Linked DNA regions of Homo sapiens: all the other regions are linked to region 1. The links come from fine-mapping of genetic effects on gene expression. A gene starts in region 1. Each other region holds a variant in brackets. All regions are shown on one strand. Distances are from middle to middle. Region 1 holds the start of CSF1 (colony stimulating factor 1). Region 2 has its middle 26 kb from the start of LINC01768. Region 3 has its middle 25 kb from the start of AHCYL1.

The links. PIP is the estimated chance that this variant, and not a neighbour inherited with it, causes the effect. A credible set is the group of variants that fine-mapping cannot tell apart.
Region 2: its variant is the best candidate, but not a certain one, in a credible set for the expression of CSF1 in blood mononuclear cells (TOPMed, PIP 0.77).
Region 3: its variant is the best candidate, but not a certain one, in a credible set for the expression of CSF1 in esophagus mucosa (GTEx, PIP 0.54).

What each region holds. Positions count from the first base shown.
Region 1 is chr1:109,908,962-109,913,199 of GRCh38, reverse strand. It overlaps CSF1 (colony stimulating factor 1), which reads right to left and starts at 2,351. Exons shown (of 9, transcript NM_000757.6): 1 at 2,138-2,351. The coding sequence starts at 2,176. RefSeq lists enhancers at 965-1,064, 1,141-1,641, 1,642-2,142 and silencers at 1,928-2,037, 2,088-2,257.
Region 2 is chr1:109,799,466-109,803,703 of GRCh38, reverse strand. No RefSeq gene overlaps it. Among named protein-coding and RNA genes, the nearest start is that of LINC01768, 26 kb to the left of the region's middle. The variant A/G (reference allele first, on the strand shown) is at 1,769.
Region 3 is chr1:109,958,110-109,962,347 of GRCh38, reverse strand. No RefSeq gene overlaps it. Among named protein-coding and RNA genes, the nearest start is that of AHCYL1, 25 kb to the left of the region's middle. RefSeq lists enhancers at 1,388-1,957, 1,958-2,529. The variant A/G (reference allele first, on the strand shown) is at 1,674.

The sequences.
Region 1 (4,238 bases):
TGAGACAAATACTGCAAATAAGTTGCTCACTGGAAAAACACAACGAGGCTATGAAACAGCCCACAACAATGTGCTAATCTACATATCACCAAAAGCCCAAATGCTTGCCAGCTCTTCTGGGGAGGAGAAGGCAGCTCTGGCTGGGTGACCAGGGAGACTGCAGAGAGCAGGGACCTCAGTGAGGCCTTGAAAGATGGGGAGAAGGTGATGGCAGGAGAGGGGTGGGAGCCATGGAAGGAAGAGCCAAAGGATAGTTTCATACCACTCAGCACAGGGACTGTGAGGATCCTGGCTGATCTGAGGGAGGGAAAGTGTGGAAGAGGGGGACGGCAGTCACGGGGGCTGGGGGGACTTCAGGCTCTGTTGGGGAGGTTGCCCTGGGTGGGAATAATGGCCCAGGTACTCAGAAACCTTAGGTTCAGGAATGATTGGAGGAAACTGGGCCACTAGACGGTGTATCTACCCCAGACTGGCTGCCACTCAAGGTCTGGAGTGAATGGTATGGATGAAAGGGACCGCTCAGGAAGACAACCTCCCTGGAGGAGAGCAAGGTGGGAGCAATGCTTAACCCCAAGGGCTGTCTGGCTTTGATGACATTTGAGGCATCAGTGTGGGGAAAGTGCAGCCACTACATGAGAGGCTGACTTCGAAGCTGGCCAAAGGGGATACCCCTGGACCTGGGGCCTCCATTCTGCCTCAGGAGGATCTGGACAGACAGTGGGGGGTTAACACTCTGGCTTGCATCTGGCTGGGCAGGCTCTCCTCTGACTGCCTCTTCCTCCCACCCCTAGCCCTGGCTTCTGCCTGGGGAGCAGCCCTCAGAAGGAATCTCTGCTGCAGGCTCAGAGATGCTAGGACACCTCAGTCCAGCTGTCCAGCCTCCTCTGCCACCTATCCTATTCCATTTCATCTTCCCCCTCAACAAGGCCTCTGGAGAGACCTGGCAGAACCGGGCCCTTGGACTTCCCCTGTCTAAACACAGCCCCCTTGTCTTTCTCTTCTTTCCTCATGGTCTCCCCTTCAGCCCCGAAGCTTTGCTTTCTGCCTATGGCTAACCCTTCTCCCTTCCCCTCTCAACTCTATCTCCTCTCTCTCAGTGAGGCACTTTCTTTCTGTGGACCCACTCTTCCCTTTCTCTCTCACCTCACCTGCAGCCCGCTCTCCTCTACCCCCAAATAATTTTCTGCTCTTTTCCCCCCAGGTTTCCCCTCTCATTTTCTTCCAGGACTCCTCAGAAGCAAATCTATTATGAGCCCACTGACTGGTCATGAACAGTGCCACCCTCACTTTCTATGGCTGCATCTGCTACCGCCACAGTTGGGGCAGGGCGTCCCTTACGCAGTCAGGAGCAGACCCTGCCCCTGGACACAGCTCTGCAACACCAAACCCTCTTTCCATTTTCCTCAAGCACTGCAAACCACCATAAACCACCACAAAGCCCAGAATCTCCCCAACCGATGAAACCAGAATTTGCAAGAAAAAGAGATTCTGAGCTAGCCCCAAGCAGCCCCGGGGGTGGGGGGCTGTTTGCCGGCTGTTGCCGTCCCCCACCCCACCCCCCAAACAGCCACCCAAGTCCTCCGTAGCTCCTGCCTGTGGGCTGGAACAAGCAGTGGCTTGCCCCTCTCCGTCCCTCTGCCAGCAAGTCCCTGGCGTTCTATAAGCTGGTTGACCCCCTGAACTTTCCCTGCCCAGAAGCGCCCACTCCTCAGCAGGGCCTTGGAAGCACGTGTGTGGCCGATGAGGAAGGTGCCCACCGGGGAGGGCACACACTCAGCGCACAGCCACTCCGCCCGTGCCTTGGTGGTGGCGGGTAGGGAGAGAGGCAGGGCACCCTGGCTGAGCGGGGGCTCCTGCCTGCAGGTGGCTCAGTGTTCCCCTCCGTGCAATGGGGTGAGCAGCCCTCCGTTTCCCAGGGAAGCCTGGCAGTCCCGGTGCAGCTGCAGGGCCGCCACCGGCCTCCGCCCTGGCGCCAGGGCCCAGTCCGTGCGCAAAGGCGGTTCGTCCGCGGCGGGAACGCCGGGCCAGTGCAGCCGGCGCGCCCAGGCTGTCGGCTCCGAGGGGCCGCTCCCGGCCGCCTGGCCGCCGAGCCCCCGCCCCAGCCCGTCCCGGGCCCAGCGCCGCGGCCGTCGCTTACCGTGGGAGGGCAGCGCCCGGCGGCGCCCGGCGCGGTCATACGGGCAGCTGGGTCCCGGCCGGGCGCGTCGGCCGCCCTCGCTCGCTCGCTCGCTCGCTGGCTGCTGCGGAGTGGGCGCCCCGGCCGAGGGCCGCACCGCTGTCCTGGGATGCGGAGAGCGGCTCTGGCGCCGAGAGGACCCAGGCAAACTTTCACTTTCCCCGGGCCGAGCCTCACTGGCCAGCCCTCGGCACAGCCTTTTAAGAGAGGACTGGGGGGCATGTGGTTTATGGGAAATCACCCTGGCCAGGCGCCAGACACACACATACACACACACACACACACACTGACACAGACACACACACTCCAGAGGCCCACTCAGCCGCCTTCCCCCGCCTCCCCTCCCCCACCCGCCGGCCGGCCAGCCCCGCTCGCGCGTCTTCCTAGTCACCCTCTGTCTTCTGCGCTGCACTTCCAAGCCTTCAGCAAACGAGCGCGGGCTCCACCGCGTCCCCACCCTGCCTTCCCCGCGCCCTCTGCGGACCGACCCTTTCCTTCCGCGCTCTCCAGGCTGATTCAGTGCTAGCGCTCTATGATCGTCCCAAGGGACTTTCCCTCCAGGCCTGAAAATCCCCAAATCTTAGCAGAAAACGGACCGAGAGCAGGGACAAGCACTGGGAAGGGAGGGAAATCCTTTGAAGACGCCCCCACCCCATTCTCGGAGTGCCGAAAGGAGTCCAGTGTTACTTGCTCCCTCGTGGAGCCTGAGTCAGCAGGTTTGCCGGCAGCCCCCTTCTTCCTCTGCAGCCCCCAAGCAGCCCGGCCAGCTTCAAGTCCCATTCTGGGAGGGAGGCCAGCTACCTGGCCAGGAAGGGAGCAGCTGTGTCCTGTGACAGCAAGCTGGGGGGCTCTTCCCTGGGTGCCAGCAGACACTTCAAGGCACCTGACCCTTAGATGATGAAAATGCTGGCTGGTACCCATGCTCTCTCCTGGAGGCAAAATCCAACTCAGATTGGAAAGGTCCTGCACCTGGACCCTAGATTTCCCTGGATGTTTTTGGAAATTGCACTTACTGAGGTGATTAATCACGTTTTGTTTCTACATGAGAATGAGTCTAAGTGAGGACTAGTAGGATGAGCCTAAGCCTATTAATTATAATGCCAACTTCAGGAGATTTTTCTTTCTTCAATTCATTATGATTCAATTCCTCTGTGAGGTTGCCCGTTTCCACCCCCTGGGAAATAAAGGATATGTGGCCTGCTCTTGAAGAGGAGTCTCTTGTCAGTAGCGCTACATATCCTTCACTCCAATCCTAGGCAATAATTTTACACCCGAATGCCTTTGCTCAGACTGGTCCCTCTGCCTGGAATGCTCCTTTCTCCACATGGCTGAAGACAAACTCCTCATCATTTCAGGCTGAAATTGCATCTCATCCTCCACCAGCAAAGCCTTCTGTGACTCTCCTGGCAGAGCAAAGGGTCCTTTTCCTGTGTTCCCATTGGACTTGGCTCATTCCTCAATGCTGGCTCTGATAAGTCATTTGCCATCCATTCATTCTCCACAGTACTTTTCGAAGTGTTTAAGGTGGTACCGATGGTTACATTCTGTCCCCACCCTAGACCGAGACTTCTTCCAGGTGGCACCCATGCTCAGTCACCTCTGGATCAATGGTACCTAGCACATAATAGGTACCAAGTTAATGATGGCTGAGTTGAATGATGCCATTAGAGAATACTTTGTTCTTTTGACAAATATGTGCTACCAGATGCTAGGCACCGTGCTGGGCCCTGGGGATACAACAATGACATGGTCACTGTACAATAATGATTTCAGATAACATGTTGACACCACAGTTCTTAAGACTGATAAAAGGTTAGAGGAAGTAACCTGAGAAAGATAAACCAACAGACTTGTTGAGAAAGGGGTCCAGTTTTACTTGCTCCTTCCTTCACCAACCCAGCCCTGGCCCAGGTTCACTGAGGCTGGCATTTGGACTTTGCTCAGCTTCTGGAGGAACGTAATCATTCTCCACGTTGGTGCAAGGCCTGAGGTCCTCATTCCCCGCACTGGAGTTCTTTACATACCCTGGTTTGAACCTGACTCCACTACTTACAAGTGATTT
Region 2 (4,238 bases), 110 kb after region 1:
AGACCCAGGAGTCCTTGCTGATCAACTGGCTGGATGGTATGGATAATGCAGGGTCCCAGGAGGAAGCCGTCAACATACTCAAACTGGGGGATTTGAGAAGTATTCAATAAGGAGACTATTGTCAAAGGTCTTGGAAAAGGATTGCAGGAACCTGGACCAAGAGCATCAGGCTTTCCTGATGCTGGACCTGATGGCCCCAGGGGAGGTCACTGGACCTGCAGAGCTCTGGAGCTGAGTAGATAGGGCTGCCTGGCAGCAGCTGTGGCCTCATGGAGGGATGCAGCCAGGCTGTGGCTGCCCCACAGGAGGTTAAGTGCCCTGACCTCACTCTCCTCTCTGCCTCCCATAAGCTATCGGCGCTCCCCAGTGACCAAGGCAGAGGGTAAGGGCACCCATAGACGTAGTTCCCACAGTCCTAGGGGGCAGAGCAAGGTGGAGAAAGTTGGCAGGCAGACTGGAAAAAGGCACCCAATCCTGACTCATTTTCCTTCTCTGTACAAGAGTGTTGATGAGCATGCTTATGTTTTGCTTGTTCCAAATTTGAAAAGCAATCATGTATCTAACGGTCCCAGCCTGGAGTCTGGCAGGCACAGGCTGGTTGCCAGCATTTGGTTTCCAAGAGTCAGCAACAAGAACACAAAATCGGGGCCACTGAGAAGTCAGTCACCAGCCCCAGAAGCCCTGGGCAGCAGAACAATCACTGACAAGAGGTTGGCTCAGGAGGTCTTAGAGTCCTTGCCAGGAATGGAACCCAGAAACCCTTTCTCCACACACTCACTCACACCCCAATCCTGCAGCTGTGGGAGGCTGGAGAGCAGCAGCAGCAGGCCTGTAGGCAGCGCAGCGTCGGCCTTCAGGGTGGCAGAGGGGCAGGCAGCTAGACCAGGAGGCCCAGCTCTGCCTAGAATCGTGGGCCCAGCTGGTAGGAAACTGGGCAGTGCTGAGTTCACTTCCCCCAGTGTGGGGATCCTCCTATGCACCCTAGACAGTAGCATCTAGGTGGGAGGAAGCTCACGGCCCCACTGGGCTCCAGGGCAGCTGGGAAGCCTGATTATCAGCAAGTAGCCGCCTGGCCCTGGATGTCCCCAGCCTAGGGCCCGAACAACCCAAGCCCTCAGAACGTCTCCAGGCCCAGCCCCACCTTCTGCCCACCTGTGATATTTATTCCCCTTCAGCGCCCATAACAAAGGCCCCTGGTAAGACCCGCAGCCCTCTGCCCTTTTCTTTATCACTGGCATCGCAAGTTCACAGGAAGAGGGTTTTCAAAGCAACAGAGTCAAGATTGCACTGCGGTCAACGTTTTTCAAAAGAAAAGAAACCAAAATGGATCAAAGAACTGCAGGTGCAGCAGATTAAGACCCTGCCTGTGACCTGTGCCGGGAAATGGGCCAGGGAAGGGTGCGAATGCCTTGGGGTTGGGGCAGCCCCTTCCACTGATTTACTGCTTTTCCAGCTCTCCAGGGCAAGGGCAGGGGAAGGGTCAGAGAGGTGAAGACCATGGCGTGTGAGAAGACTCAAATGTTTGGGAGCCAAACCATCGGGAGGCATCTTCACTCACCCAAAATGCCCCATGCTATGAAAGGAGGGCCAAGCATACAGGATCAGGGCTCAGTCAGAGGCCCACGGGGAGCACCTGCTTCCCTGGTGGTCAGCTCCTCATCCTTTTCCTTGTTCCAATCCTCTGCCCAGGGAGGCCCTCTGTAATAAATCCGTCCAGCCCCCCTCCCCCCTGGGCTGCCAGAACTCTCTGTGGCTCTCATCTGCACCC[A/G]GAGAAACAGGCTCTGAACTGTTCACCCACCTCGGGTTTGCACTGAAATCCAGCCTCCATGCTGGATTGGTAAATTGAGCTTTTCTAAGCAACAATCTGTCTGTTTCTTACAGATTGACTGTAAGCTCCAGGACTAAAGTGCTTCCTAGAGCTTAAAATGAGAAACATGAAGTTCCTATACCTCCTACGAGACAATGATTAAATTTCTCCAGCTGCTTGTAAGAAAGTTATTTGGCCTGGCATGGTGGCTCACACCTGTAATCCCAGCACTTTGGGAAGCTTAGGTGGATAATTTGAGCTCAGGAGTTCGAGGCCAGCCTGGCCAACATGGTGAAACCCCATGTCTACTAAAAATACAAAAATTAGCCAGGTGTGGTGGCACACACCTGTAATCCCAGCTACTTGGGAGGCTGAGGCAGGAGAATCGCTTGAACCTGGGAGGTGGAGGCACCACTGCACTCCAGCCCAGGTGACAGAATGAGAAATAAATAAATAAATAAATAAATAAATAAATAAATAAATAAATAAAAGGTTATCTAATGCATTTAGTATGGGTTATAAAGTTTTTTGTTTTACTGCTCTTATTTTCCTTTTGCTTCATTTTTTTTCTGGTTTCTTTTTAATTTACTTGATCTTGTTATGTTGAATGAATTTTTAAACTCTTTTTCTAAGTTGTGAAGTGCAACAAATATTTGGAAAAGCATAGGGAATTATAGAATGAACATCTTTGTACCCACCAACCAGCTTTACCAATTCTTTTTTTTTTTTTCTTGAGACAGGGTCTTTGTCTGTTGCCCAGGCTGGAGTGCAGTGGCACAATCATAGCTCACTGCAGCCTCAAACTCCTGGGCTCAAGCACTCCCTCTACCTCAGCCTCCTGAGTAAACCACACTTGGCTAATTTTTACATTTTTCGGAAAAGGCAGGTCTCGCCATGTTCCCCAGGCTGGCCTGGATCTCCAGCTCAAGCAATCCTCCCACCTTGGCCTCCCAAAGTGTTGGGACTACAGGTGTGAGCCACTGCACCAGCCCAGCTTTAGCAGTTCTTAACATATTGCCACATTTGCTTCAATTTCTTCTTTATTTTATTGTAGTAAAATATGCTGACATAAAATTGACCATTTTCACCATTTCAATTTCTTTTTGAAACATAATATTGGAAATACAGTTAAAGGGCCCTATAACCTCTGTCCCATTCTCTTCTCTCCTTCCCTTGAGATAATTACTATTCTAAATTTGATTCTTCTATAAAACTGATTACATGTACATTGTAAAATAACCCATTGTACAGTAAAGAAAGGTATAAAGCACAAAGATAAAATTCTCCTGTTACCCCCAGCATGAAACTCACTCCCTCTGAAGAAACCACTGTCAAAGCTTCCTATAAATCTTTCCAGGTATTGTTGTTTTATATTTAGGAATTATATTGACTTGTTTTCTTTCTTAACACAAATGGAATTATGTTATCCATACTGCTCTCCAGCTTGCCTTTTGTTTCCTATTATCAGTGCTCCTTGGACATTTCTCCATGTGAATGCTACTGAATCTATCTTATTCTTTTGAACAGCTGCATGGAATTCTACTTGATTTAATGTTTCCATGGATGGAGATTTAGGTGGTTTCCAGTTACTTTGCTATTTTAAACAAGCGTACACTGAACATTCTTTTTTTTTTTTTTTTTTTTTTTTGAGATGGAGTCTTGCTCTGTCGCCCAGACTGGAGTGAAATGGTGTGATCTTGGCTCACTGCAACCTCCACCTCCCCAGTTCAAGCAATTCTCCTGCCTCAGCCTCCCGAGTAGCTGGGATTACAGGCATGCGCCACCACACCCAACTAATTTTTGTATTTTTAGTAGAGATGGGGTTTCACCATGTTGGCAAGGCTAGTCTCGAACTCCTGACCTAAGGTGATCCACCCGCCTCAGCCTCCCAAAGTTCTGAGATTACAGGCGTGAGCAACCGCACCCGGCCTGAACATTTTTGACAGAGTTTTTGCTCACTTGTGGGAATACTGTGTATCTGTAGAATAAATACCTAGAAGAGGAATTCCTGGATAAAAAGGTACGGAACATTTGACACCTCAAAAGCTATTGCCAAATCTAAAAATGATCAACTTAAACACCTACTGACAATGTCTGAGAGTTCCTGCCTCCCCACATCTTCAAGAACATGTCTTTTCACACCACTGGCCTTTTTTTTTTTTTTTTATCTTCTGTGAACTGTCTGCTCCTATGCCTTTCCTCTAGCCTTTCCTGTGTTTATTTTTCACATGTAACTCTTTGATCCATCTGGAATTAATTTGGGATGCAGCATGAGATAGATGTTCTTTTCAATGAACATTTATTCATGTTTCCCACTCTGTAAATGATTGAATTAAGTGCCAAGACAAAGGGAAATGCAGATCTCTCTCCATTCTTAATAGGCCAGAGGCTACCTCATTTTGCCTCCCCACTTAGAACTAGCCCACCCGAG
Region 3 (4,238 bases), 49 kb before region 1:
AAAATACTTAACCTCTTTGAACCTTGGGCAGTGCTATAGTTTCAGTATTGGTCCCCTCCAAAACTCGTGTTGAAATTTAACCCCCACTGTGGCAGTATTGAGAGGTAGGGCCTTTAAGAGGTGATTGGATCTTGAAGGCAGAACTGTCAGGTGTGTGGTGGGGCCTGCAAGTAGTTGCCTGCAGCTCCTCTGCCCTCTTCATTTCACCTACTTTTTTTTTTTTTCGGTGGGGTCTTACTCTGTCGCCCAGGCTGGAGTGCAGTGGCGTGATCTTGGCTCACTGCAACCTCCACCTCTGGGTTCAAGCGATTCTCCTGTCTCAGCCTCCCGAGTGGCTGGGATTACAGGAGGCTGCCACTATGCCTAGCTGATTTTTGTATTTTTAGTAGAGATGGGGTTTCATCATGTTGGCCAGGCTGGTCTCAAACTCCTGACCTCCGGTGATCCACCTGCCTTGGCCTCCCAAAGTGCTGGGATTACAGGTGTGAGCCACCGTGCCTGGCCATTTCACCGACTTTGTGAACTTTTCTTCTCCATTTCCCCCCATCTGTTTGCCAGAGGGGTGGGACTGGAAACAGAACAGCTGTGGCTGCTTTGTCTCTCCCCTCCGTGGTGACTTATGGCCTGAGTGGTGACTTACAGGAACCTGGCCACCTAGGTGCTATGCGCCCTCTTAACCTTTGAACTGGAACTGCTGGCTCACACAAGGTTTTGAACAGCTGCAGCAAAAATCCTACAGAAAAGCTGGATTCCTTTGCCTTATGTGGAAACAGCAAGGCCCTGCCAGGTGCTCACCACTGGTCCTGGCAGAAGTGGCTGCTGCTGAGAGTGACCTTCCAAATCCTTGGTGGAACTCAGCACTACAGGCTCTTAAATAAAAACCCTTTAGACACAGAAAAAAGAAAAAAAAAAAACAAAAAAAACTCTCAAACATTTGATGTGAACAGTGCCCTCATTTGTGTATTAATTCATTCATGGATTAATGGATTAAATGGTTAATTAATTAGTTAATTAGCTTGCTCAGCCTCTCACCATGGGGTGCCCCGAACTACCTGGGGACTCCCTACCAGCAAGAAGACTCGCCAGATGCAGCCCCTCAGCCTGGGACTTCTTAGCCTCCATCACTGTAAGAAATAAACTTCTTTAGAAGTTAGTCAGTTTCAGGTATTCTGTTATAAGCAATAGCAAACAGACCAATATAGACATCACCTATAAAACTGAGGTAATAATACTCAATTTACAGGATGATTGTGAGGGTTGGAATACATTATGGGCCAGACACTGAGTCTTAAATGCATTAATTATTACTTTCATTAAATGAGAAAATGTATGCAAAGAGTTTGGCATGGTGCTGGGTACATAGTAACTACTCAATCATTGCTGGCTGCTTTATATTGTTATTCTTCAACCCAGTCCAATTTAGGAACTGCTGGCATATTAACTTGCCTAATAAGCATTTTTTATTATGTTTATCACTTGCTCAAAATCTTCTTTGGCTCCCTTTTGCCTGTTTCAGTAAGTCCAAACTCCTTGCCACGCATTCAAAGCTCTACTTATCAGTTCCCTCCTACCTTTCAGATTTTATCACCTGAATTTGACTATTCAGTGTATCCCATACATACTCCTGGTTTTCCCTCCTTTTTAGCTTTGTTCAAACTCTTCTCTCTCCCCAG[A/G]ATGCCCTTCTCCTCCCATTTTGCTCAGTAAATATTTGCTGAGTAAATAGATGGTGTCCTTTGGAAAAGCTCTCTAAGGGAAGCCAGTTCTTATTCATGCTATATGTCCCCCCTGTGGTGGGAACACACAGGGCAGATTATGTTTATTACCAGCAGGACTTTTCGTAGGGGAGGCATATATGCAAACTGAGAGGTTTTAAAGAAGTCACCCCTGCTCTACAACCCCTCCACCCCTCCCGACTACAGATGCTACATAATACTCACGCCAAGAGGTGATATTGCTAAATTCCTCTTGTTTAATTAGCCTCTCAATTCAGGGCATACTTATCGGATACCTACAAAGCGCTCTGCAACTTGCCTGAAACTGTGTGGGTCAGAGTACATTTAAGACCATCCAGCTGGAAGTGAGAAGACTTGAAAAACATTGGCAAACAATGCATGTGAATTCAGAGTTGGTTTCTAAATTTTGTAATGCTGAAGACAAGTCTTTGACTAGGATGAGCCTGTGCACTAGAGCAAAGGTCAAAAGAGGTTACAGCCAGTCGAAACTTTGAAAGGGCCCTTCCTGGAGTGCATCTCCTTGTCCCGCATGCTTTAAGAATGTATGGTATGCTAAAACAAACATCTGATGTAGGCTGGTGAAATGCAAACCAGTATTCTGTATTCATGTGATAAGCCAGGCCCAGGGCAGTCTCCTAAAAGGCAGCTTTCTTAAAATCACGGGTAACTTTCTGCTTCTAAACATATGGGTGCAGGGAGAGATTTTTTTCCCCCAAGGACCAGCTCCCACACCCAATGTAGTTCACTGGTTCAGCACAAGCTCAGTTGTTTAAGATGCTAAGACATCTTTAACAACAGGAGCAGTAAGCACAGGGAGATGACAAACAGACATTTCTGAGTTTACTCAGTGCCTTAGCCCAGCTTAACTCACTGTCTAGGCTCTTGGCAGGTCTCTAACCTGGATTTTATTTCCAGAATATTCTCAGCTCCCAGATTATTCAGAATAAGATAATAAAAGTTAAAATTGGAGCACATGCTTTGAAATCAAATGAGTTTGGGTTTGAACCCAGCTCAACCACTTACTAGCTCTGTGACCTTGAAACTCAAAAATGTTTTCTGAGGTTTGGTTTCCTCCTTTTGACAATTGGGGTGATACCACTGACGTTAGGATTTATTGTGAGGATTAATGAAATGATGTGTTTGGAGTGTAGGCTCAGTATTTGATGGTTAGTATCACCATGACAATGACTAGAGGTCCCCCTCACTCCGTTCCACACCCAAACTATCTCCTCCAAAGCTACCCAAATTCTAATTTTTTTTTTTTTTTTTGACAGAGTCTCCTGTTGCCTAGGCTGGTGTGCAGTGGCACCATCTCGGCTCACTGCAACCTTTGCCTCCCAGGTACAAGCGATTCTCCTGCCTTAGCCTCCCGAGTAGCTGGGACTACCACCACGCCCTGCTAATTTTTTTTGTATTTTTAGTAGAGACGGAGTCTCACCATGTTGGCTAGGGTGGTCTCCAACTCCTGACCTCAAGTGATCCACCTGCCTCAGTCTCCCAAAGTGCTGGGATTACAGGCATGAGCCACCGCACACAACCCTAAATTCTAAATTTAACGGCTCTCTTTGCTCTGTATTCCTCCTACACCTCTTAATAACGATAAGTGTAAATAGTAATAATAGCCAAGCACAGCTATAGCCTACTACATGCCCATGCCTGTGGTGGACACCTCCAAACATTATCTCCAATCCTATTCCCAGTTTACAGTGCAGGAAACTGAAGCTCAGATAAGATAAGTGACTTGCCCAAAGTAAGTGGAAGAGCTGGAATTAGAACTCAGGCCTTCTCTCTCCAAAGCATATGGGCTTTCTACTTAACCACATTTTCTCCTTTGGAAAGAGAAGTCTGTTTTTCTGGATGCAAAGACCAGATACTCTAGCTTCCCCTTAACAACTTTCAGAGCTTTTCTAATTGCTTGCCTCTGTAACTGTAATTCATTCATTTATTCACCCCACAAATGTTTATAGTGTATATCAGGTGCTAGGGGTATAAAAATGATTAAGGCAGTCATCTTCAGAGTTCACACTTTGATGGGGAAGACAGACACATAAATGGGCAAGTGAGGAAGTCAGTGATTAGGTAAAAGGGCACAGTGGGACCCCAGAGTCCAGGTGGGGTTGGAGGAAGAAATGATGACATCAGAAGAAGCTTTCAAAGGACTTGGGTTAATTCATTGACCTACTCTTTATTTCATTCATTTCAGAAATGTGTTTTAAGCAACTATTCTGTTTCAGGCTCTAGGCTAAGCCCTGGAATTAAATGTAGGCATGGCTTGCTTCCGTCTGGCCAGGAGGGATGGACTATAAATAATTAAATGACATTAAAATTGTCTTGGGGTTATGCCAGAAGGATGTACAAGTTAAATCAATGGGGGGGGGAGGGGGTTGGGTGCACAAATAAATGGTTAATTCTCTAGGGCAAGTGTTGTTTCGAAGGTCCAATTTCTTTCAAACATGTTTTTTCTTTTTCCTATTCATTCCTGTCTTACTGTTTGTTTTTGTTTTT